5 separate regions of the Homo sapiens genome follow, and all the other regions are linked to region 3. Evidence: fine-mapped expression QTL. A gene starts in region 3. Each other region holds a variant in brackets. All regions are shown on one strand. Distances are between the middles of the regions. Region 1 holds the start of SRGAP3-AS3 (SRGAP3 antisense RNA 3). Region 2 overlaps SRGAP3 (SLIT-ROBO Rho GTPase activating protein 3). Region 3 holds the start of SRGAP3 (SLIT-ROBO Rho GTPase activating protein 3). Region 4 overlaps SRGAP3 (SLIT-ROBO Rho GTPase activating protein 3). Region 5 overlaps SRGAP3 (SLIT-ROBO Rho GTPase activating protein 3).

Region 1 (5,000 bases), 31 kb after region 3:
CAAGAGGAAGTCCAGGCTGGCAGATGCATGTCCTGGCCATGGGGCTGGGATACTCAGGAATAAGACTCAGGCACTGGGGACTAAGGCAGATGCTGTCACCAGCGGGGTGGGACAGAGGTGGGACCTGAGAGGATGGGAGGTGGGGTCTGCCCTGGGCTGTGAGGCAGCAGCAGGACTAGCAATGTGGATGGAGTTGCTTTGCCTTTCCTCAAGCCATCCTCTTCCCTGTCCTCTCATTAAAACTTTCCTGTGTGTGTCCCATTTGCTTGGGACCTCAAGGCCAATGATGAGCTAATCATCTAGGGAGCCAGTGATCAATGTGGCTTTAGGTGCTACCCAATTTTAGTGACATTTGCATTGGGACAGATGCCTTAAATGCCTTGATCCAAAAGAATGATAGTGCCTGAGATTTGGGGACAAAGACACTAAGCCCAATGTCAAGGATCCCATCTGTGTCCCTTTGTGGAGAGTACTCTTGTTTGGAGATATAATGATCAAACAAGATGCCTGCTGTCCAGCAGTATGGAAGCTGAGCCCTGTGCCTGAAACTTTTGGAGCAGCAGCTGTTGGGCCATTGCATGATAATCTGGGCAGCATTTTTAGGGAGGAAAGAGCAGGCAGCAGAGGCACATCTGAGGACCCAGGAGCTGCAGAGGAGGCTTCATCTTGATGTTTGCAGCCTCTCCTGGAGGTGAGTGGACTACATGCAGGACTTCGAATGATCTGGATATGAATTCTTTTTTAAAAAATTGCTTTAATTGATGCATAATAATTGCACATGTTTATGGGGTACATGTGGTATTCTGATACATGCATACAATATGGAGTGATCAAATCAGGATGTTGAGGATTCCTATGACGTCAAACTTTTATAATTTCTTTGTGTTGGGAACATTTGAAATCTTCTCTCCTAGCTACTATGAAATAGCCAATATCTTGTTTTGAACCATAGTCACCCTATTGTGCTTTTGAACACCAGAACTTACTCCTTCTATCTAAATATATGTTTGTACCCATTAACCAACCTCTCTTCCTCCCCGCCCCACCCTACCTTCCCAGCCTCTGGTAATGATCAGTCTACCTTCTACCTCCATGAGATCAACATTTTTAGCTCCCACATATGAATGAGAACATGTAATATTTATCTTTTTGTGCCTGGCTTATTTCACTTAACATAATGACCTCCAGTTCCATCCATGTTGCTGCAAATGACAGGATTTCATTCTTTCTTTCTTTATTTTTTTGTACTCTGTCGCCCAGGCTGGAGTTCAGTGGTGCGATCTTGGCTCACTGCAAGCTCCACCTCCCGGGTTCACACCATTCTCCTGCCTCAACCTCATGAGTAGCTGGGACTACAGGTGCCCACCACCATGCCTGGCTAATTTTTTTGTGTTTTTAGTAGAGACGGGGTTTCACCATGCTAGCCAGGATGCTCTTGATCTCCTGACCCCGTGATCCACCCGCCTTGGCCTCCCAAAGTGCTGGGATACAGGTGTGAGCCACTGCCCCTGGCCAGGATTTCATTCTTTTTAAATGGTTGGATGGTATTCCATTCTGTAGATAGGAATTCTTGATCTTCTGCTTCCTCATGGGGTAAAGTTACTCAAGCCCCCTCATCTGTAAATAGAGGTGATAACCTGTGTGCCTGTTCCTGCCACATGTTATGGCTTAGTACATACCTGATTACACTGAACCTCAAGAATCACAGCATACGTCCTAACTCTCACCTGATGCAGAGTCCTCGACAACCATGAGGCTTCTGATTGGAACTTCCTGCAGTAAGGGGCTGACCACCTCAGAAATGAGACTATTTGCATTGTTGGAAAGTCTTGCTAGGAAAGTCTTTCTTGAGTGGAACTGCAAGATGCCTCTCTCCTTTAGAACAATACAGACTAAAATCTAAGCTGGCTGCCTCATGGTAGCTGTTTCGTCATTTGAAGACAGCTTTTGGCCAGGCATGATGGTTCACACCTGTGATCCCAGCACTTTGGGAGGCCTAGGTGGGAGGACCACTTGAGGCCAGGAATTCAAGACCAGCCTGGGGAACATAGTGAGACCCTGTCTCTATTTAAATAAAATAAAATAAAAATAAAATAAGATAAGATAAAATAGGCTGGGCGCAGTGGCTCACGCCTGTAATCCCAACACTTTGGGAGGCCGAGGTGGGTGGATCACCTGAGGTCAGGAGTTTGAGACCAGCCTGGCCAACATGGTGAAACCCCATCTCTACTAAAAATACAAAAATTAGCCAGGTGTGGTGGTTCACACCTGTATTCCCAGCTACTAGAGAGGCTGAGGTGGGAGGATCACTTGAATCCGGGAGGTTGAGGTTGCAGTGAGCCAAGCAGAGATTACAACACTACACTCCAGCCTGGGCAACAGAGTGAGACTCCATCTCAAAAAGTAAATAAATAAATAAAAATAATAAATAATAAAAAGTAAAATTAAAAGATAAAAAATTCAATAAAATGAAATAAAATAAAGACAGCTTTTATGTACTCCTAAATCAGCGGTGGGAAATAGTTTCTACCTGATGTGCCAACTGTGCTGGATTGCAGTGACAGCTGGCGGTCTGTGTTGAGAAGTATTCTGAGGCTGTGTCAGGGTCAGCAGGAGAGTATCAGATCTGCCCTGGGCTTGGGGCTGGGCATGGTGTATATGGAC[G/A]GTGTGTTTATTTTCTCTGCTAAGCGTTTATGCTTAGATTCTGCCATCATGCTTTAGGTGACTTATTCCCTCATTCTCTGGTCTCTTTTTCTGGCCACACTTCAGCTTATCAACATTTAAAAAGCCATCTGGCTGCCATCTCTTCTCCCTAATTCATTTCTAGGGTGGATTTGACCAATCTGGCTGGCCCAGCTGTGGTCTCTCCTAGAGCATTGTTTCCTGCAATATCTTCCCAAATAGAGGAGGACCATTTTTGGATCTGCAGTCTGCTAATAAACCTTCCAAATTATTAACGGGTCTCTTAAAATCTGGAGCCCAAGCTAAGTAAGCACTGTCTTTCAGAAGTACTCTCAATGGTTCGGAGGCTAGCAGGACTAATAATACATCCCTTGATCCTGTTAATGCGGCTTAAAGGTTGTGTTAGCTTTTTCCCTGTGTTTGTAAAGCCGAAGCTGTAGTGTACCCCCTGCTGCGGATGGTGAGGGCAGGAGAGCCAGATGCAGTGGGGGCAAGATCTCCTCCTGTCCCCTCCCTGCCTCTGTGACTCTTGGTGGCTTGGGGGGCCTGGGGCCTGCAGGGGTGACATATGGCCCCACCGAGGTCCAAAGGCCACAGGTCTCATTCTGTCACAATGAAGTTGTCTGCCCTAAAGGTCCCTGGATCACTGTCAGTCTTGACACTGGAGCAACCTGAAAAAAATAAGGACAATGTAGACATTTTCTCATAAACCTAATGGCACACAATTCAAGACCTGCTCTTTATTACACAAATGATGGTCTTCATTTCCTGCGTGTGGTGTGGTGTGGTGTGTGTGTATGTGTGTGTCAGAAATTATCCTTTCTTAAACAATTGAGGTAGTTCTTCTCCCTGCCCCGAATACCCTTTGAAAAGTTGGCCACCCTCTGTAGATCCCCTTCCTTTTGCGGGGAGGAGGGAGTCTTACCAGGCTGTGAAAGCTGGTCTAAAAACCCCAGCCTTGTCCAAGGTGAGGCCCATCAGAATTTGACGTGCCCCCTTGGAGGGTCTTGAAGAAGCAATCTGGCATCTCAATGAGGCCCCTGTGGCACAGGATTGGGCCATTAATAGTTAAAGTAGTTAAATTTCTCACAGCCCAATGTATTGGAAAGGCAGCAATGTTTTCATTTAGACCTTAGGGCTGGGGTATAATTTAAGGAGAGTGGATTTTGATTTAGGAACTCAGTTAACGAGTGCCAGCCTTGTCAATTTTTTTTTATTGTGTCGAAAAGCACATCACATAAAATTTACTATCTTAACCGTTTTAAATGCACAGTTCAATGACGTTAAATACATTGATAATGTTGTGCAACCGTCACCACCATCCATCTCCAGAACACTTTTCATCTTGTAGGACTGGAACTGCACCCAGTGAACAGGAACTCCCTGTTCCTCCCCCATTCCCTGGCAATCACCAGTCTACTTTCTGTTTCCGTGGTTTTGGCTCCTCTAGGCATCTCGTGTGAGCGGACTCATACAATATTTGTCCTCTGTGTCTGCTGTAGTTTAGTTAGCGTAATGCTTCAGGGTTCATCCGTGTTGAGGCGTGTGTCAGAATTCCCTTCCTTTTTAAGGCGGAGTAATATCCCATTGTATGCGTAGAGGCCGCATCACGTTCATCCGCTCCTCTGGGGAGGGACACTTGGGTGGCTTCCGTGGTGTGGCTCATGTGCTGCGGTCTTGTCAGTTTTTAGCCATGGCTCGGGAAAGTGACTTGGCCCCTCAGTACCTCCGTTTCCTCATCCATTACATCGGAGCCTGTCCTCTACGTGGGACTGAAGTAAGAATCGTTGTTTGTGACAGTGCGTAACTGCAACAGTCCATCGAGTTGAAGTTATTTCTGAGAGCACTGGGCTAGCATTTCTTAGGGTATCTGCTCTGTGGCCATTCAGCTTTGCCAGCCTGAAGTGTAGGAGGAAGGTGGGAGACGGTTCAGAGAAACGATACGGAGAGGACCGGGCTGTGGCTGCTCCACAGGGTGTTTTGGGTGGGGCAGTTCTTCACTGTGGGGACTGTCCCTTATATTGCAGATGCTTAGTACCTTGACCCCTGCCCGTTAAATGCTGGTAGTACTCTCCAGTCATTGTGTTGACTTAAAACGTATGCCCATAATTTTGTATTCCCCTTGTGGGGGATGGTCCTGCCTCCAGGTGAGAGGCAGGGCCTGAGTGTTCTAGAAGGGTCTGTGGAAGTAAGAAGATGAAGCACAGAAGAGGGAAAGCATAAGAGAATGACCTGGTGGGCTGATACATCTGCAGTGTGCATACTAACAGTTGGTGCTCAGGCCCTCTGAGTGTGCATTAGTCAGGGGCCTCCAGATA
Region 2 (5,000 bases), 24 kb after region 3:
AAGCTCTTGGGTCCCCACGACACCCTTCTCTTACACCTGCTGCTGCTTGTCATTGGCCTAACCTGCCTGGTTTCTACATGTGTTTGAGTTTGCCACCTTTGGATTAGGCCAAGAAGTTATGCTTTATTTTCTGTCTCAAACTATGATCATCAGATTGGGTTGTACAATGAGAATTGCATGACAGCATAACAAACCATTCTATGTCTGTGATGGAAAACTGCCTCCGACTTACCATCATCCTTTCAAACTTCACCATGGAGACTCCCTGTCATTACTTCCAGTAAAACCTTTGTCATCTCCTTAAGGATGAGTTTGAAGTTTTACTCAAGGGCAGGATACTCTCCCCCAACAAGAAGTGCTGCTGTATTTGTCTCTGACTGCCCCCCAACCCCTGAGGGGAATGAGGGAGGGGCATTCAGGTGCTAGAGGCCACTGAAGACCCAGTGATGCATTAGATGGTGTCCTTAGTCATTCCTATCGTAGCCACCGTAATGCATTTTTAGTAGTTAAAAACATCGCAATGTAATTTGATAATTTTAACACCAAAGCACAATTCACAAGAAGTAATTCTGCCCAAACAGTGTGGTCCAAGGACTCTGCATTGGACTGGGAAGCCAGACAGATCTAGGACTGAATCCCAACATTGTCACTTACTAATTGCTTGACCTTGGGCAAGGCATCTCCCCTCTCTATGCCTCAGTTTCTTCCTCTTTCAAATGGGCACCCATTGGACTCTTGCAAGGATTAAATGACATAACCCATGCTTACCCAATGTCTGGAATGTGGGCCACACTCAATAAGTGCGCTCTGTTATTACTCTTACCCAGATTTTGAGGGGTCGATTCAATCCAAGAGTGAAATTTACAACATTCATGGCAGAACGGATGGCTTGCAGGCAAAGTTAGACCCACTAGCATGTTTTGTTTGGCCTTTGCAGGATTTACAAAAATGAATTCATCATTTCCAACACTTAAAAATGAAGAGAGTTAAAAAAAATCAGGGGAGTTCATGTAAAAATCCAGACTTCTGGCAGCTCTTAGAAAATGGGAAGATCTAGGAACACTGGGCCCTCATTCTCAGAGGCAAAAATTGGCTGTTCCCTTCCAATGGGACAGGGGCTCGGACTTGTGCCAGTGCCCACCTGGCCCACTTTGCTCATTTCTGTTGCCTGCTTGGCTCCTGTGGGCAGGTGGGTTTTTTTGACCTGGAGGAATGGATCCACCTTGAGCCAATCCTCCATAAATATCATTTCCTGCAGACGGGGTTTGGAGAAGGTGAATAGCAGGTTGCATTTCCTGGCAGGTGCTCATGGTGCCATCTGTGTTATCGATGAAATGAAGAGCCATCAGCTTCAACAATTTGAGGGGCAGAGATGGGGTCATGGTCCTCTGAAAACAATCTGAGAAATTAACAGATTTGTAGCTGTGAATGGATGGCCATCTCATCACCCCATGTAGGTGGGCTGAAATTTAATGAGGAAAAAGTGTAAAGTCTTGCCCTTATGTCTGAAAACCAGTCTGTAGACTGGGGAGAGGTGTGCTTAGCAGCAGCACTTGTGAAAAAGACTTAAGGTTCTCGTTGACAGTGAGTTTTGCTGTGAGTCACTGTGAGGCAGTTGCCAAAAAACCTAATCTGATTCTGGGCTGCGTTTATAGAAGTCTAGTGTCTGGAAGACCTTTCTAACAATTAGAGCTGTCTTGAAGGAACAGGCAGGCAGTCTCCTAAGCCTTGATCTCCCAGGCGTAGGAGGTGCTCGAGGCTGGGTGATGAATCCCTGGAAGAGATTGTCAAGAGTGGGGATTTAGGCATCAGAGGGAGATTTGTTCTAGGTGACTTAGAAGGTCTCTGCCAATCTGAGATTTTCTGCTTTCTGCAGCCCAGTAGAGGAAAATAATTTCCATAACAAAAGTAAAACTCTTTCTGATAGAGGAAAGCAGGACTCCCTGAAGAGGCTCAAAATGGAAATGTAAACTTCCAGTTCTTACCAAGTAATGTGGGCAAAAGATATCACTGCCTCTACCCCACCCCTGACCCCCTGCCTTATTTCTCAGAGATAGGGGTCGGGGGTTGGGGTTGCGGGGCAGGATCTGCTCTGCACATTACTGGTAATTTTTTTTTAAAGCTGAACTTTTATGCAGAGCTTGCAGACTGACAGCACATGGGCCCGATCCAGCCTCAGGTGTGTTTTATTTGGCCTGTACTGTGTCTTTTAAAAATGTGAGTTAGATGCCAACTTGTAAAAATGAGGAGATTTTGTATAAAATATGGACTTCC[CA/A]GCAGCTTTTATAAAAGTCAGAAGGTCTGGCAGCGCTGGGCTTTTGTTCTGGGGATGAGCACCGATTGCCCTTCTGTGGCAGGACTTGAGCTCTCCCTTGGTCATGGTCCTAAACTCCCTACCTGGCCTGCGTCACCTGTTTACCCGGCCTGCCTGGCCCCAATAGGTGTTGGAGTTTGCCATCCCTGGTGTCATGGCTTGTTTTAAAGGCCCTGCGCTGTTGTGACCTTAAGGTGCCATTGTGGACTCTGCTTGGTCATCCCCTAGCAGAAGGGCGGGCAGCTGGGAGTTTGCCAGGGGATGGGGTTGGGGTAGAGGGAGTGGGAGCAGAAATGCTTTTATAGCTGCTTTTAAAAAGTACCTGTGGCTCACACACAGTCAGCCTCCAATTCTTTCATCTCAGTAAACACCCCCAGCTGTTCTATTGTATGGCTCCAAGGCCCCCAGTGGTTTTCCTTATAATGACCCAAGTCTTCAACCTGGTAACTTCCACACTGTGGGCCTGTTCTGGAGCTGTTCAGGACAGTGGCTTCCTCTTCCTCAGCAAAGCCTGCTAGACATTTGCAGACAGTAGTCTCCTCTCTCCTGGAAGCTGCTGACCATCCTTGCCCTGAGAAGGTGGTGTTGGGTGCAGAGAGACCAGATGGATTTCCTGGAAGTGGCTGAGACAGAGCTGCTTTCAGGTGGGTCCTGAGCTGGGCAGTTTCTGCTTGGAAGCCCTGAGTGTCACGTGAAGCACTGTTCTCTCCAAAGGCCCCTCACTCCAGGCTCAGAACCTCTCTGTCATCTGCTGGTGAGAGACAGAGAACTGAATCTTTTTATGAAGTTTGGGGATTTGGTGGTAGAAACTGCAGGCACTTTACCCAGAAGCAGGAATCTTCAAGGACTGTTAGCTCTAATCTGTTGGCTGCTACGAGTTGAGGGGAGTGAGGCCTGCCTGTAGACCTCTTGATTGCCCTGCTCTGCAATAGAATTTGCTAGACTTCCACGCTGTTTGACTCTGTCTCTCTGCTTTTTGGTTCTCAGGCTGAAATTGTCCATCCTAGACCTTCACAACCTATAGGACACCCTCCAACACCACTTCCCTGCACAGCCAGCCCCTCCCTGTGTGGTTCTGCAGGCTTCTCACTTAGGAGATGCCCTGCTGTTCTGAGTTATTTCTAGTGTAGACATAGGAGCTTGTCTGGCCATCCATGGTACAGCCATCTGGTGGCAGTTTCGTGTTTTCACTGTGGTTGCCTCAGTGTATTCTTTTATTGAGTCATCCTTTGAGTTTCCCTTTTACTTTTCCCTTATCTCTCTGTTTAAGGACTCGCCCTTTCTTGGGGCCTTTCTCCCACAGATATGAAGGTATTTGTGAATTGTGGCAATTTTGGGAAGGCGGTATTTCTTGGGAATGGCAGGGTGCTCCACGATTACTCGACATTTGGAAGATGCTGGAGTCTGCATGGGGGGAGAAGATGGGCAGGCACCCTCTGACCTGCCTGAACAGGGTTAAGTGTGCAGGGTGGAGGAGGGGTGCGTGGTGTTCCCACACGTCCATCTCCCTTCACACTTTCCTCCCTCTATTCCCTTTTCCACACCACTTGTAAATGGCATGACATTTCAACACGAATGTCATGGCTGCTACCTAGTTTGGGGTCCTGACCGGCTCAGCCTTCCCTGGGGGCTTCCAGAGGTCTGAGTCAGAAACAGCCAAGTCTCATGTCTAAATGAGTTGTTCTATTAACTTGGCTTGGGTAGCACTCGGTGACGAAACCTGACTGTTGCTGTAGGTATCATGTGGAAGGGCTGCGGGCATGGTGTATGCATGTGTTTGTTGCAGGCGTGTTTGGAGAGGAGGGTCAGGCCTTCTCTTCTGCAGGGGCGTCTGTTTTCCTTCAGAGCCCCGTGGCTTGTGAAATGGCATTGCACAAGGAAATGATCTATCTGGAGCCGATTTCACTCCTGTGTAGTGCTGGGAGCTAATTGAAACTTCGAGAGGAGAAGTGCCTGTCTTCCATCCAGAATCAAGATTAATTGATGTTCTTTAATGGAAACAAATCGAATCTCACAGCAACCCTTCCCATTAACCTTACAGTCATGCACTTTTCTATGAAGGCTGGGATGGTTCTTCAGAATCAGCAGGTTCTTGGAAACAGTTGATGCCTTGAAGCCATTTGTGTCTGTCCTCATAATGGCTGGTGGGAAACGGGGATAAAATGCCTTTGGAACACCTGATGAGTGGCTGGGATGAAGGGGTGATTCTTGTTTGCCTTGTGGCTTGCATGGCACACTCATGTTGCATTGCATTTGATCTCCCTAGCAACCCCGTGATGCAGGTGGAGTTGGACTGAGTATCTTTAATGTATCATGAGGAACTCCTCCTGACTTTGGAGCACCAGTCCCTCAAGATGTGTGCTGAGCAAAGGGCTCTGTGTTCAAATAAGTGTAGAAAACATTCTACTGCATCCCCTTCCTAAAGATTCATAGCTCACTTCTATGTATTAAAGACTCTGATAAGTCCTGTAGAAAAATCTATTTAATTCATTATTTCCTGAACTTATTAACCTAGGTACTCTTTTTCTTTACAGTGTAATTATTGGCATCTTCTAGACCTACTGACATGTCCTGTAAAAACCAGGTGATAAACATTTTAGGCTTTGTGGGCCATATGGTCTTTGTTGTAACCAATCAGCCCTCCCTTTGTAGTGCAAAAACATCCACAGACAATAGAGAAATAAGT
Region 3 (5,000 bases):
TATGCCAGGCACTTTAAATCCATGATCGTGTTGGATCCTGTGCCATGGGTGGATCACTACCCTATGACAGATGAGGAAACCAAGACTCAGAGAAGGTGTATTCCTCCATGAGCCCCACACACAGCTGGTGCACAGCAGAGCCAGAAGGTAAACCACCATCTGACTTACTCCAAAACCCAGCCTCTGCCAGGTGTCAGCTCAGAGCGCTATACCATCTTTGGCCTTGGTTTTGTATGGCTTTTTGTGACATTTTTGTGACATTTCCATGGCTCAGCACCCTACACATAGGTCTCCTAGAACTATTTGTGGATTTAAAATTTTAATAATGGTGAAAATAGCTGACATTTACTGAGTTCCTGCCACCAGTGGGCACACAAGCAGGTTGAGCCACTTGCTCAAGTTCTCATGAGCTCAAGGCTCGTGGCAGAGCCAGGAGAGGATCCAGTCTGTCGTACTCCAAGGTGTATGGTTTTAACTTTCATTTTTCTTGAAGAATCTAGACTTGCAGCAGGGATGTTAATCTCTGTGCCCATCTTTCTCAGGTAACGTGGGGCTTTTGTGGGTTTGAACTAGTTAGAAGAGGACAGCAAAGGGCCTGAACATGTCCAGGGGAGGCGTGAGGCAGTGGGGTGATGGCAAGGGCTGCGGGCCAGTGGCATCTATTTCTGAACTGGTGACCTCCTGCCTCCGGGTACAAGGCTATAATAAGCCCCATGATTCACCAGTTGGACTTCTCCCTGTCGTTGCTCCAAGCAGGTCTTGTGCTTTGCCACCTGTGGGCCCCAGCTCATGCTGTGTGCTCCAGGAGAACATCCTGCCCCGCCTCACTCCCTTTGCCATACTTGCCTGGGGACGCCCACTGCAGCTGCCATGTCCTCTAGGAAGCCTTGATGGACTAGCATGGATAACCTATTCATTTCTGAGTCCAAACAGAATCATTTATTATAGACTCAGAAAAAGGCAAATGGAAGACTATACCTATTTTGAGAAATTTGGGAACATTTATCTCAGGGGACAGTCAGGGGCCAATACACATTAGTGACAATCTTAGCATATGAAATTCCAGTGATCAGCGACTCTTTAGTGCTTGACTCAGTTTTTACAGAATGAATCTTATTCTACCTTAATTCCACATGAAATGGGTTTGGTCTCCCTTGTAGAATGCAGGAGACTTTGAGCCTGGGTTGGAAGGCTGGTGACCTTGGGTAAGTCACTTCCCATATCTGAGCCTCTGCTCCTTTGTCTGTGAAAGAGTGGTGCTTATACCTATGTTGTTAGGTTGTTGGGGGATATAAAAGGGTAATAACAGTTGCTACTGTTTATTGAGTGCTTGCTATGCACCAGAGACTGTGCTAAGCTTAGCTTTGCATTTTTCTTTGATCTTTTCAAGAGCTCCTCTCATTCCCGATGTTCCTTACCCTGCAATATTTTTTCCCATAGCACTTTACATTTTGTATGATATTATATAATATACTTACTGTGCTTATTTTTGGTCTTCCTCTCCCAGGGCCTCTTGCCTCGTACAACTCCAGGGGGCACCATTCACAATGCTTTCTACTCCAGGGGTGCTTTTTACTAAGAATATTAGCATGAATGGTGGAAACTGCTGGAGTTGTGTGATGTGGAGCCCCGGGAGCTTCAGAAGGTCAGGGATTTTTGTGTGTGCCAGTTCTGATCATTGCTGTATCCCTGTACCCAGAACGGTGCTAGACCTATAGTAAGCATTCAGTAAATATCTGTTGAAAGAATGAATAACATAGCCTCCAAAGAGAGCTGATTTTACTATCTAGGAAACTGAGGCTCAGTCTGACTTATGAATTTGCCCAGAGCCCCACAAGCCAATGACCCACCCAGCTGTTCTGCCTCCAGTGTGCCTGCTCTGCGTGGCTTTGCTAAGCTGCATGCCTTTAACTCCTCGCATCGTCTCTGCCACCAAGTAACTGCTCAACAAATATTGATGCTTTTCCCTACATGGGTCAGGCCCTCTGCTAGACTATCCCAGTAGAGTGACAAACCATCATATAGCTGTTGATTCCAGAAACTGAATTAAATTGCACAGTGCAAAAAAAGGGAGGATCTTAAGTTTTTGGAAGAAAAATCCCTAACCCAAGTGCTAATGTTTGGAGTTTGCAGAAGCCTCTCAAGACTTACCAACCCGATTACTTTTCCTGCTGCCTTCCCTTTTGTGAGCGTTTCTTCCCCTTTTTGCTTGCAGTGAGTTCTGCTCTCCTGTAGGCTACAATGTGTCAGTTGTTATAAAATCCGGGAGGCGGAGTCTAGTGACGTGAGCAGTGGGGGAGAGCTCAGCCAGCCCTGCAGGGCGAGCAGTCCAGCCTTGTGTTCACCGGAGCTTAAGCGTTGCAGCAGGAAAACTTCCATCTCGCTCTCCTGGCTTTGATCCTCACTGGACATCAGACCAGAGGCACCGAAGGGAGGGAGGATGCGAGATGACCGGCCCTTTGGCAACCTGACCATCGACTTAGCAGAGCCTTCAAAAGCAAGCCAGGGGCTGGCTGCACGACCAAAGAGGCGCCGCGCCTCTCGTGGATGTGTGTGTGTGAGTGATCCAGCGAGTGTGTGTGCGTGTGAGGGTGTGTGTGTGTATGCCTGTGTGCACAGCACAACTGTGTGCGTGTCCCGGTGAGTGTGCCTGTGCATGCGTGAGTGTGTGTACGTGTGCATGTGTGTGTGAGTGCGCTTGGTTATTACTATTATTATTATTTTTGGAAGAAAAATCTTTGAAAATCTGGGGCAGGTTACTGTGCTCCTAGGGTGATTCTTCTTTTGCAAGAGGAGCTGACCAGGGCAAGCTACTAGAGCCATTTCTCGGCAAGTAAAGAGATTTTTCCTTCCAGAAGGAGAAGGATTTTTCTCCCTGCTCTGCAGCCAAGTGAAAGAGATTAGTCCCTAAACCTGTGAAATCGACCAGAGCTGTGTGATTACCAGGGCTTGAGAGAGGACTCGAAAAGAAAAGGAGAAATAAATCAAACAGCCTGTCAGTTCCTTTGGCCACGTCAGAAGATGTCATCTCAAACTAAGTTCAAGAAAGACAAAGAGATCATTGCTGAATATGAAGCCCAAATAAAAGGTGAGATGCGGGCTGGGAGAGTTTTCCTTCTCCTCCCCTTTCGTTTTTCTCTTGTTCTGGTTCCCATCCCCCGCTGCCCCCCGTTTTCCTCTCTGCCATTATGAAATGTTATGCATCAATAATCTTTTTGTGAGGAGTAACAGTGGCAGCCGCACAAGTCCGGACTGGTTTCAACTGCAGATAGCGCTGGGGCTGGGAGTGTGGATTATGGAATGGGCAGCAGTCTCTGCATTGCAGGTGTGTGAGGAGGATCCTATGCCTGACTTTAGGAGTGTCGCTGATACCCCATCATCTTGGCGGTGACATGTCACTCTAAGGCCATTTTGATAGTCACTACCTCCACCCCTTCCCTGCCATGGTAAAAGCCCTTTAATATTGGGGTATTTTTTTACCATCTGCTCTTTTTTTCCTCCCCCTTTTTGGTTTCTGTTGGTGGTGGTGGTTTTGCCTCCGCCTCTTTCTCTGGGCCGGAATTCACATGCATGTGCACAGCGAGGCAGCATCCCTGGGCGGCACTTCTTTGTCGGTGTCTCTGGGCTGGCCTGGGTTGCCATGGATTAACTGTTATGGGGCATATTGATCCAGACTAATGCAGGCATTTGGGCATAAAAAGGGAGCTTGGTGCAGAAAATGTATTATCTCGCAGTGTGCAGCCCAATCACTCTGTGCCCTGGCGTTTAGGTTCATCAGCTTTCATTCAAAGCCAACACCTCGGCATGCCGTTTGGGCTGGTCAGCGCTGCCTGGCTTCCGGGGTTCCAGGAGAAGCCTGCCGGGAGGGCGAGATGACCTCTGGCTGCTGGTTGCACCTTCTGTGCCACCGGGTGTATACTTCTTTCAGAAGCCGCTCCCTAAATCCACGCTAGCCAGGCGAAATAGGAAAGGGAACACAATTGCATGGCTAAATGCGGGCTTGCCGCATCCTCATTCAGGCCAGACTGGGGCTTCTCCCACCCCTACACGTTCTAGGCTCAGCTTTGGCAAGGAAAATCTAAAAGCTCCATCCAGCAGGCTCCTCCTTTCTCTGAGGATGTGCCCTGTGGGAAGCCTGGGCTCGTGCCTCTTGGCGTCCGCTTTCTTTCTGGTCATGGTTCTCCTTGCTGCGACACAGGGTGTGTTGTGGCCTCTCCTAGAAAGAGTAAAGACAAAATGCATCTTCAGCGGACCTTGAGGCCTATCTTTGAGGTTATGCACAGGCTGTTGAGCAAGTTGGGTATTTGGGGCTCAAGCAACCTGAGGTTGCCACACCTGCTTCTGGGCGCTGCTGCAACTGAAGACCCAATGACCCAGGGAGCTGGGTGGCCTCCTTAAAAGCAGCGGGAAGGCTGGGCACCGCAGCTGCCATACACGCTTCAGATGCTTGGGAAACTTTGGGAGTGGAGCAGCCACGGGGGGAGGGATCTGTTTTTTTTCCAGTCTCACCAACAGTCTTTTTGCCTTTTAGTCCTGGTCAAAAGCCCAGCGTGCTCATCACCTCTGGGCATATCCTAGGGCAAGAGGAGCAGAAAACCCTGCTCTTCCCTGGTCTCCTGTCTTTGGTTTTTCAGTTCAATGTGGAAAACAGTGACTTACGATGTCTCAGCCTTGCTGAAAATTTAGAAATAAGCGCTTTATTGGTCAGAGATTTTAATTCACCCAACTGCTCAATACAAAAGCCTAGTTTCAATCTTTGAATAGACTCTTTTTAGGGAGTTTATGTTTTATAAAATGAATTTGGCCAATTATTATTATTTTATAAAAATTAAGGTTGCCATGAAAATGCCTTGAGAGAGAAGGGGATGTTGAGTTTTGGACAGTTCAGGTTTTATGATATTTTCTTGGTAGGAAATGTGCTTATCTCATTTTGGAAGGATTGCTACTACTGGGCCAGTGAACTTTTCTTCAGGGCCAGTTAGGCATTAATTGCCCTGGCT
Region 4 (5,000 bases), 260 kb after region 3:
CTCCTCCTGCTCTTTGATTTTTCCATGCCATCCGTGGCCCTTAGAAGTGCACCAGCCTCTGGTAACAACATGTGTGTAACTCTTATAGGGTACTATGTGCCAGACACTGTTGCAAGCACTTCATGTATATTCACTCACTTAATCCTTCTAATAACCCTGTAAGATAGGTTCTATTTATTACCATTTCCATTTAACAGATGAGGAAACTGAGGCACAGAAAGAAAAACTAAGTATCCCAAGGTCACACAACTAAAAAATGGTAAAGCCAAATGTTCTGAGCTTAACTGTGTGATGGACAGGTGGATGAATAGATCGATGAAGACGAGATTGTCCACAGTGAATGGAGCAGATAGAGAGCCCCAAGAAAGCTCAGCATGGAGAAGCTATCTACAGGCTAGAGAGAGGGCAGGGGTTGCTTTTGTTACTCTTCTGTTCTATTAAAATAAAAAAAAGTAAGAATTATAATGTTAAACCTCTTTGTGCTTACTTTAAAATATTAAAACATTAATACCTATACAAAATCAGTTTTCTACCACATATGGACACTTCTTAGGGTAGAAACTATAAAACAGGTGGAATAAACTGTAGGCACAATCCCCTGCTCCCCAAAACGTCTCTTCCCCAAATATCACTAGTTGTATGGTCCTTAAACCATGCAGTTTAAAACACTTAAACTCTCTGCAGTTCAACGTCTCTTCTCTGGACGCATCCCATAGGCCAAATCCATTAATAATTATAATCACAGTCATGACAGCTGCTGTCAACCGAATACCTCATGAGTATCTGTACTAAGCTATGCCCTTTTGTACAAGAACTTTTGTTTGTTTGTTTTGAGACAGGGTCTTGCTCTGTCACCCAAGCTGGAGTACAGTGGCATGATCATGGCTCACTGCAGCCTCAACCTCCCAGGCTCAAGTGATCTTCCTGCCTCGGGCCCTAGAGTAGCTGGCACCACAGGCACGTGCTACCACGCCCAGCTAATTAAAAAAAAATTTTTTTTTGGAAATGAGGTCTCACTATATTGCCCAGGCTGGTCTCAAACTCCTGGACTCAAGCGATCCTCCTGCCTCAGCCTCCCGAAGTGTTGGGCTTATAGGCATAAGCTACCACGCCCAGCCTCTGCTCCTCTTATAAAGACACCAGCACTAGGATTATGACCCCACCATTATGACCTCATTTAACTTTAATCACCTCATTTACATTAATTAAAGCCTCTAAAATACAGTCACGTTGTGGGTGAGGGCTTCAACATATAGATTTGAGGCAGACACAGTTCAGTCCTTAACAATGAGCTTTGAAGGGTCTGGGTACCCTTAAAATCCTGTATCGGATTTTGCAGATTAGAGTCTGCATACATGATGTGGCCTCTCAAAAGATTAAAAATTACTAAAAGTATTATAAATGACAAAGAGGAAAAGGGTGCATAGAAAAATAGAAATATTAATAGAACTTGTGTTAAGGGGTGGAAGAAAACGAAAATTCTACAATATTGTCTTAATGAGCATTAAAAAGTAGAGAACAAGAAGGGCAGTGGAAAAGGAGCATGTATCAGCTCCCTCTTTACATTTTGAGGGTTTGATGGTTTTCCTGAGGTTGCAGGGTGGAGAGTGGATCTGAGGCTAGGACCCCAGGGTCCTGAGCCCCAGCCCACCAGGCGTTCTGTCCATGTTCTCACCAGCTGTGCAGTCTATCCTTCCCCAGAGAAGCCAGGGCCATCTGAGTGAGGCTCCTGAGCTGCCACTTTGCTGACCTCAGAGACGCTTTTTCCCTTGATTTCCTTCCAGAAGTGGAGCAGATCGAGGCTATTGCCAAGTTTGACTACATGGGGCGGTCCCCGCGTGAGCTATCCTTCAAGAAGGGGGCCTCGCTGCTCCTGTACCACCGCGCCTCGGAGGACTGGTGGGAGGGCCGGCACAACGGCGTGGATGGACTCATCCCCCATCAGTACATAGTTGTACAGGACATGTGAGTGGAGTCGAGAATTCTGTGAAGAATGCCGAAATAGATTAGTGATGTCTGGGATGGGCACCGTAGGGGAGTGCTAGCTTGTATGCCAGCAATTTGCTCTCCTTGATATCATACGCTTGTTCTTCTCTAACAATGGGTAATATCTAACTTCCCTTTAAATGGTGATCCACTTAACGGATATCCAAATTCCTCCTTCTGAGCACACAGAAACGGTGTTGGGTGCCTCTGGCCTACATCCTGATGCAGCTGACAGCCCCCAGGGAGTGCCATCACCCACCAGGGCTCTCAGTATCCAGGGGATCCTGCCATGTGCCTCCACCTCCTAGGCCTCCCCTGCCTACGGTTCTACACTCCAGAGGTAGCTCTCTTAGGGGATGGGCAGAAACATGCCCTTGTTTCTGATTAATAGGGTACTATTTTTTAAAAAATAATTTCAGGGGTTAATGAAAAAGAGCCCTGCATCCCAAATGCCTAGTCCTACCACAAAAAGTCTGCACTTTCCATTCCTTTGAAAGCCATGGAAGCTTCCAGTGCACACCTTCCTTGGGAGCTCTGGTCAGGCTCGGCAGAACAGATTTACCATAGAGGCAGCCACCAAGCTGAGCCTCAAGGGAAGGGGATCAACAGCCCACATTGTGATGGGAGAGAGGGGGTCTCAGCCAGAGAAAAGGCCAGGGCCAAGCAGACTGCCAGAGGAATGCCATAGTGGAGGGCCCTTGGCAGCCTCCCGAAGTCCCCAGACCTCTGAGATCAGGGACAAGTCACCACAGCAGAGGGCCGTGGAAGGAGGCCGGCAGGGCACCCCAACAAGCTTGGGAGCCACCTCACAGTAGCCCAAGCCCTGGGTGGGGAGGTGAGGGGCAGAGGCAGCTTCTTCCTCCCTTGCTTAGCCAGAAGCCATTTCTCATGAAGTCACACAGAGACTCAGCACTCAGCCCTCGGTGCTCAGCCTG[C/T]GGACTCCATCCCCCCATTTCTCCAACACACCCTGCAGCATTTAGCTTGTCCTAGCCTGGAGCTGCCTGGGAATGAACAAGCTAGAAGAGAAAAAAGGAGGAGGTAGGTGTGGGACAGAAGAGGGTCCCAGCTGCGGAAACTGACCAGGAGTGTTGCAATGGGCATGCGTGGTGGGAAGGCACCCAGTGGGCAGTGGCCTAGCAAGCGCTGTGGGCACAAAGTAACCATAAGTTGTGTTAATTCAGCCCCTCAGACACATATCAGGGAGCTCTGTATATGCTGGGTTCTTTGGGGGAAGGTGCCTCCAATTCATGTCTGTCTTCTCCCCAGGGATGATGCCTTCTCCGACAGCCTGAGCCAGAAGGCTGACAGCGAGGCCAGCAGTGGGCCATTGCTGGATGACAAGGCCTCTTCCAAAAACGACCTCCAGTCCCCCACGGAGCACATCTCGGATTACGGCTTTGGGGGGGTGATGGGCCGGTAGGATATGCGGATTCATTTTTTCCCTGCTGGTGTCAATCCTGTTCATGTCTGATTTGGGAGAAGCACAAGGGCAGAGAGGAGAGAAGGAGCCTACTGCAGCCCCTTGTTCCCCACAAAATGAAATGGGCACACTGGGCGGGCTGGCTGGCATTGGCCCAAGAAGGCCAGGTATAGAACCATCCAGCCTGTGTTGCAGGGAGGAGGAGGAGGAAAGACATGTGTTGGGAACCCAGTGCTTTTTTATTTAAAATAATAATAATGTGTGAGAGAGATACAAATTGGCAAGTATTTTTCCTACCTGTGTCCAGTTCCTGCACCTCCTTCCAGCTTTCTGTTGTAGAACTGAGTTGTTATATTTAAAAATGTAAAGCTCACATATTCCCTGAAACGCGCTACATAAACAGAAAACTCACACCTACTCATGTGTTGAAGGAAATTGACACTCGACTCCACCCACTTATTTGGAGGGAGCAGTATTACCAATTTCTTCGCTCCCTATGTGTGGGCCAGGCTGTGTCACATAACCTTTCTACCAGGCAAGGAGCTGTGCATGTCCTTCTGAGAACAGGTATAATCCAAAGTATGTGGTTATTTTTTAAAAAATTAATGAGGAAATAAGAAGAAAAGAAAAGAAAAGCTGACAGTTTCTCACTGCCTTTTTAGTCACACTCTCAAAATGTCATATTCTATGTTTTTTCCAGTGGAGGGGTCATGTGGTCAGCCCACACATGTAGGTATTTGCAGATAGACCCCAAAAAAATCAGTCACAGTGGGAACACACAATTTATGAATTTATTTCAGCAAAAATCCTGATGCCTCTTTTCTGCAAATTCCATTCAGTTCAGCAGATAGCTCGGGGCACTGTGGTGGAATTGAGAAGGTCAGGGAAGTGGAAGGCTGGCGTAGGTAGACAAAGAAGTTATGGTCCCCTGACTTCTAGGAGGACCATATCTTCTGCCTCTCTTTTCCTCTCCCTTGTCCCCCGCCCTCACCTCCTTTGTTCTTGTTCTTTCTTTCTAAGTACTGCTTCCTTTCCAATACCTATGCTTTGGTCCTGCTGGGGCACCCACAAGCACTGCTTAGCTTGGCTGGTGGCACTAGGATCTGAATCACTGGTGGTCCCTAGTCATAATCCATTCCCAACACACGGTCCCTCTCCCTCTCCCCTCACCACTTCTAGCCCTTCAGACTCTTGGTGACCTCTGTAGGATGCAGCCAAATCTCCTGTGTATAGAACCTCTTATCTTCAAGGTGCTTTCAAACCCACTTGAAGCAAAGGTAAAGGGTGGGCAAAGGATCTTGCTTAAACCCGCTTCACAGATTAATAAAGTGGGCTTGAGAGAGGACACAGGAAAGCACGCGGCAGACACAGGGCAAGAACTCACCTTCCTGAAACACAACCTAATCCCCTTTTCACCACACCAGAGCCTCCCTGAAGTGGGAAAGGTACCAAATGCACAAAAGGGCTGTCCAGCCATGCAGTGTTTACTCTTGAATGACTAGTTTTCCAAGATCCAAAAAAGCCTCGCAGAAGGAGCCCTCTTCTGGGGAGATTGGGGGTTGGGTGGCAACGTTAGAGTGTCTTCAGTTCCCAG
Region 5 (5,000 bases), 100 kb after region 3:
ACACTGAAAGTGTTCTGTGGCCTTTGCCTTCCTTTCTCCATCTGTGCATGGAAGAAGTTTCTATGATCTCTTCCGGGTTTAACTTGGCCTTGAAAATAAACATGGAAAAAGTGCCTGGGATGAAGATTGGGTCTTCTCGGTGCTGGCCTCTCCAGGCTCCCTTTTCCTCTCCCACCTTCTTACTTCTGGGCTCCAGCCAGATGGTCACTTGCCTCCTCCAGCCTTTGCCCAGGGTGTCTTCTGCTGGGGACATTCTCCCTGACCCTCCTCTCCTCACCCCATAGCTCTTTCCCTGGCCCACTCCTCTTCAGCCTTTAGATTTCAGCTGAGATGCCATTACTTTCGGGACCCCCTCTTGATCTCCCTGGCACCCCCTCATCTCATTAGGCTCACCTCCCTGTATCCACCCTGTGCCCTGCACTTGCCCTATCCCAGTGTTCATCTCACTGGATTACAGTTGCTTGTCAGTCCTCCTTCGTGGTCTGTTTACTCCATGAAGAAAGGGGCAGGTGTGTTCTTTGCCCACCACTGTTTCCCCAGCACCTGCACGGTATTGGACACGTCGGGGGCACTCAACAAACCCATGGTGAATGAATGGATGGAGCCATGGCTGGCTGGATGGGGTGCATGAATAGATGGGGGAAACAGGTGCTAGGTGGTTTGAGCCTGTTAGCTACTGCCGTAGAATTGTGCGTGACAACCATATCACCTTGGTGACATCAGTAACAGGTATTTATTGCTCACATGTCTGGAGTTATCTGGAGGTCAGCTAGGCAGTTCTGTTGAACTTGGCTGGGATTACTTGCATGTCTGAGGTTGGCTGTTTGGCTAAGGTGACTAGGGCAGTGCAGCGCCACTGCTTTTTCCCTCACCCTCCTGCAGGCCAGCCCAGACATGTGCTGCTGGTGATGGCAGGGGTGCAAGAGCAAACAGAGACACTCAAGGCATCTTGGAGCCCGACTGTAGCTGGAGTAGCACATTCTACTGGGCAAAGCAAGTCACAGGGCAGCTCTGTTTCAAGGAGTGGGGAACTAGATTTTGCCCCTTTAGTGAGAAAGGAATTGTAGACACATGGCAACGATTATGGATACAAGGAGAGACTGAAGAAGTGGGGCTATTAATGCAATTAACCTGCCTCATGGGACATCAAAAGTCCTGGGTCATAGCTTAGGATTAGGAAACTGAGGTGCAGTTAATGAACTTGGCCAGCTCTCAACTAACTGGGACCTAGGGGAAGACACATGTGCCAGATGGGCTCTCTAGCTTCAGGTTTCTTTTTTTCTTTTCTTTTTTTTTTTTTTTTTTGAGACGGAGTCTTGCACTGTCACCTGGGCTGGAGTGCAGTGGCGCGATCTCGGCTCACTGCAACCTCCGCCTCCCGGCTTCAAGCGATTCTCCTGCATCAGCCTCCTGAGTAGCTGGGATTACAGGCGCCTGCCACCACGCTCGGCTAATTTTTTGTATTTTAGTAGAGATGGGGTTTTACTATGTTGGCCAGGCTCGTCTCGAACTCCCGACCTTGTGATCTGCCTGCCTCAGCCTCCCAAAGTGCTGGTATTACAGGAGTGAGCCCCCATACCCAGTCTCCAGTTTCATTCCCTAGAAATAAGGGAATGATGTTGATGCTGCTCAACTCACATAATTCCAAGGAATCCATTCTTTCTTCAGCCCACTCTCAGGTTTGGGGAAGGATTACAAACTGTAAAGTGCTGTGTCATGGGAAGCAGAATTGCTCTTCCAGAAGCACTTGGCCCCCAGAACTGGGGAGGAGCATGGGGTAGTGGAGAAAGGATGGACTATGAGATGAGGAACCTGTCTGTAGGCCCCATGTCCCAGGCCCCACGTCCCAGGCTTCTGATATCTCAGGTTCTCCATTGTAAATTGGAGGCCCCGTGGGGTCAAATAAATAATGGATGCAAATGGATTTCAAAAAAATATCAAACACTCTGTGGTTGTAAGGTATTATTGGAAATGGGGGTACCCTGTTTCAAATAATTGCCAAAGTAGCTATTTGACAAGTCTGGCTTCACCCCATGGCACTTCCTCTGTCTCCCCAGATGAGATGGTTGGGAGTAAACTGTTCTGAAAAGATGCTTCCAGAGTCCAAGAAAATGACAAACAAGACTTCCTAGATGTTCTTTTCCTGCATGACACCATGAGGCACTGCCCCCAAAATTGCTGGTGCTTGTAGCACACATTCCTCTGCTTGTTTTCTGCCTAGCACAGAGAAATGCTGGGGTTGATGGTTTTTCTAGGGCGTTTTCTTCTTCCAGTCCCTGAAATAAAAGCCGGCGTTTCTGGAGGAGAGGCAGGCATCTCCGCCCTCATCCCTTTATCCTCCTCCTCCTCCTGCTCCTCCTTCTCCCTCCCTGAAGTTGATGCCCTTGGTGATTAGCGTTGTCCTCCCTGAGATGCTAATGGAGGTTCTCTTGGACACTTAAGCTAAACTGGATCCGTGGGTATTTCTCTCACTGGCTTTGGAGGAAGAAAACCAACAAAACAGCCCCTCCCTGGCTCTGGAGACAATCTCAGGCGTGGGAGGTGAGGCTTAATGCCTTTTATTCCCAAACTTTGCAGAGG[G/C]GCTTCTGAAAGATGGGAGGGAGAGGCCAGAGTGTGGTGACACCATCTGAGGGTCTGGGCCCCATCACAGCCCTGGTGGACCCTGGCCTGCCCATGTCATCTGCTTTAGTGGCTCTGGCACAGGCTGCATTCCTTTCTCCTGGAGGCTTCACCTCTCTCCAGAGGCCACCACTCTGGACGGCTGTGTGGAAACACCTGGGCCAGAATGCATCCAATTCCCGCAGAGCAAAAGGAAGCGCTTGGATGCTTCTTGCTGCGAGCACATTGTTATTTTTCTTTCCTCTCTCATGAATCATTCTGCCTGGAATCTTCCCTGGAAGGGCTCATCTGGCTAATGATTCTGTGCCCAGAATCAGGGATTTTGATGCACTGATGAGTGACAAGCTGAGGTGGCTGAGATTTAGGGGCAGGGAGCCTTCAGTCTGGGCTCACCTAGTCCGGGGCTCAGGTTGTGGCTACAGCACCTGACAGCCGAGTTCATTAACTCAACCACCGTTTCCCAGTCCTAGGCTGCTGTAGGTTTGTGGTCAGTGTTAAATGAGATCAGGTGTGTGAAACTGCCTCGCACAGATGGGTTTTGAATCTGACTGGAGTATGATCAACCCTTGAGCCTACTGACCCCTTACCCCACTTCTCTGGTGGCTGCCACAACCCCATATTCTTGTCCTCTACAGTAGAAGAAATCAAGGTGGGGGCCTGGCAGGCTCTGACTTCCAGAAAGCATTCCTCTTGTTTTGTGTTTACTTCTGCAAAAGTAAGAAGTAAAAATGGGGGTGTGTCCTTGGGCAAGTTATTTAATCTCCCTGAACTTCAGCCTCCTCATCTTGACAATGGGAATGGTATTGTCTGTGTTGTAGGGAAAGTTTTAGAAGTAACAGATGTAGAGTTGGGTATAGATTCAGTACTTGGTAAGTGCTAGCTGGATTAATTTCACATCCCACACGTCTCTGGTCTTACCAAACTGCAGGTGTGCGTGGAGGGGGTCCATTTCTGCCACTCATAGCCTACATTGCATCACAGCAGGCTGCCACCGCTGGGCGTCAGGTCTCCAGAGGCATCTCACGTGTACATGAACAATTCTGCTCATGCTGTGGTTGACCTCTGCTTCCTGCCAAGCACCCAAGAGGGACGCATCGTCCTCGCGCCCTGCAGGGTGTACCTTGTGGGGTTCCCGCTCCTCTTCTAGCACCTGGTCCTGGTGCTCTCTGTCTGCATACCTTCAGATGCCCCTGTGTTCCCATCAGTCTGTGTTGCTCTAGAACCATCCCTGTGCTAAGCCAAGGTGTGGAAGAAGCCCTTCCCTTAACTCTGCCAAGCTTTCTCATGAAATCTCATCATCTCCCATGAGACATCTGAATTGGGCCTTGAAGTATGAGTAGGAGTTCACCAGGTGAGGGGTAAATGTAAACTTATATTTCACTTAGAGGCCACTTCTTCTCCCAGACTGGCTTCCTTTTCATTAATTTTTGAAATCAGTTATAGAAATTGATGCTGGGGTTACCTGTCTGCACCTCTGGTTTCGCTTGGGGCTATAAAGTCCCTGCTATTATAGCAGCAGCTTCACATCACTGCCACTCTTATCACCAACTACAGGTGGAGCGGGACTCTAAACTGGGCAGTCTAAGGGAAATGCTGTGTGTGAACTCTACTACAAGAACCTTTGCATTTGAGATGGGCCCTGTGGCACTCCACGCATGGGGTTCTTGTACAAGTTAGCAAACCAGGATTTGTCAGTCAACACGTGGAATACCTGCTTGATGGAAGGAGCTCGATTGATAAGTCTTAGTTGAGTCTCCCTGTCCCTAATTGTAGTATGGCAGTAGCCTTCTAACTAGTCTCTTCTACCGATTCACTTGCCTCTATGCTGCCACCAGGTTTTCTGTAACATTGACTGTGGGGTAAGGCCTAAGCCCCTGAACATGGCCTTCAAGGCTATTCACCATATGGCTACAAGGAGCCCTTTCTGCCTGAGCTTCTTCCATGCCCTGCTAAACTTCTTAACTTTTAGCCTTGTTGAACCCCTCGCCAGTCCCTGAACAGGTCACATACTTCCAGACCTCAGGGCCTTTGCCCACTCACCATATCCCTCATGCCTTCTCTCTCCTCACCTGGTGAACTCCTATCCAACCTTTGAGGCCAGGCATGCATGCCCAGTGAAACCTCCCTGGCCCTTTTAGTTCCTACCATCTCCCCTACTTCCTGAGTTCCTTTCCTTCTTGATGTTCTTCTTTTGTGTGTACCCCTGTTTTAGCTCATTGTAATGTTGTGATTTTTTGTATTTGTTAGTGTCTGCCGAATTCCTCAAGGGAAGCTCCTGAGTCTCTCCCAGGGTTGTACATTCTTTTCCTAGCACAGAGCCTGGCAGATGCTAATAAATGTTGTATGAATCTGTAAATGAATGATTGAATATGGAAATAGGG

What was found.
Region 1: its variant is fine-mapped to the expression of SRGAP3 in whole blood (TOPMed, PIP 0.97).
Region 2: its variant is fine-mapped to the expression of SRGAP3 in whole blood (TOPMed, PIP above 0.99).
Region 4: its variant is fine-mapped to the expression of SRGAP3 in lung (GTEx, PIP above 0.99). The same link has a PIP of 0.9 or more in thyroid, tibial nerve, transverse colon, unexposed skin and whole blood.
Region 5: its variant is fine-mapped to the expression of SRGAP3 in esophagus mucosa (GTEx, PIP above 0.99).

What each region holds. Positions count from the first base shown.
Region 1 is chr3:9,216,084-9,221,083 of GRCh38, reverse strand. The region is part of intron 1 of SRGAP3 (SLIT-ROBO Rho GTPase activating protein 3); the gene reads left to right. SRGAP3-AS3 (SRGAP3 antisense RNA 3) reads right to left here and starts at 4,189. Exons shown (of 5, transcript NR_103443.1): 1 at 4,095-4,189; 2 at 3,608-3,722; 3 at 2,531-3,353; 4 at 1,728-1,875; 5 at 1,576-1,617. The variant G/A (reference allele first, on the strand shown) is at 2,665.
Region 2 is chr3:9,223,189-9,228,188 of GRCh38, reverse strand. All of the region lies in intron 1 of SRGAP3 (SLIT-ROBO Rho GTPase activating protein 3), which reads left to right. Among named protein-coding and RNA genes, the nearest start is that of SRGAP3-AS3, 8.8 kb to the right of the region's middle. RefSeq lists an enhancer at 3,534-3,793. The variant CA/A (reference allele first, on the strand shown) is at 2,275.
Region 3 is chr3:9,246,973-9,251,972 of GRCh38, reverse strand. SRGAP3 (SLIT-ROBO Rho GTPase activating protein 3) reads left to right here and starts at 2,327. Exons shown (of 22, transcript NM_014850.4): 1 at 2,327-3,088. The coding sequence starts at 3,022. It overlaps SRGAP3-AS4 (SRGAP3 antisense RNA 4), which reads right to left and starts at 2,217. Exons shown (of 3, transcript NR_146969.1): 1 at 2,152-2,217. RefSeq lists an enhancer at 2,309-2,548.
Region 4 is chr3:8,991,308-8,996,307 of GRCh38, reverse strand. It overlaps SRGAP3 (SLIT-ROBO Rho GTPase activating protein 3), which reads left to right. Exons shown (of 22, transcript NM_014850.4): 19 at 1,785-1,965; 20 at 3,253-3,402. Among named protein-coding and RNA genes, the nearest start is that of RAD18, 30 kb to the right of the region's middle. The variant C/T (reference allele first, on the strand shown) is at 2,922.
Region 5 is chr3:9,145,519-9,150,518 of GRCh38, reverse strand. The region is part of intron 1 of SRGAP3 (SLIT-ROBO Rho GTPase activating protein 3); the gene reads left to right. Among named protein-coding and RNA genes, the nearest start is that of SRGAP3-AS2, 44 kb to the left of the region's middle. The variant G/C (reference allele first, on the strand shown) is at 2,581.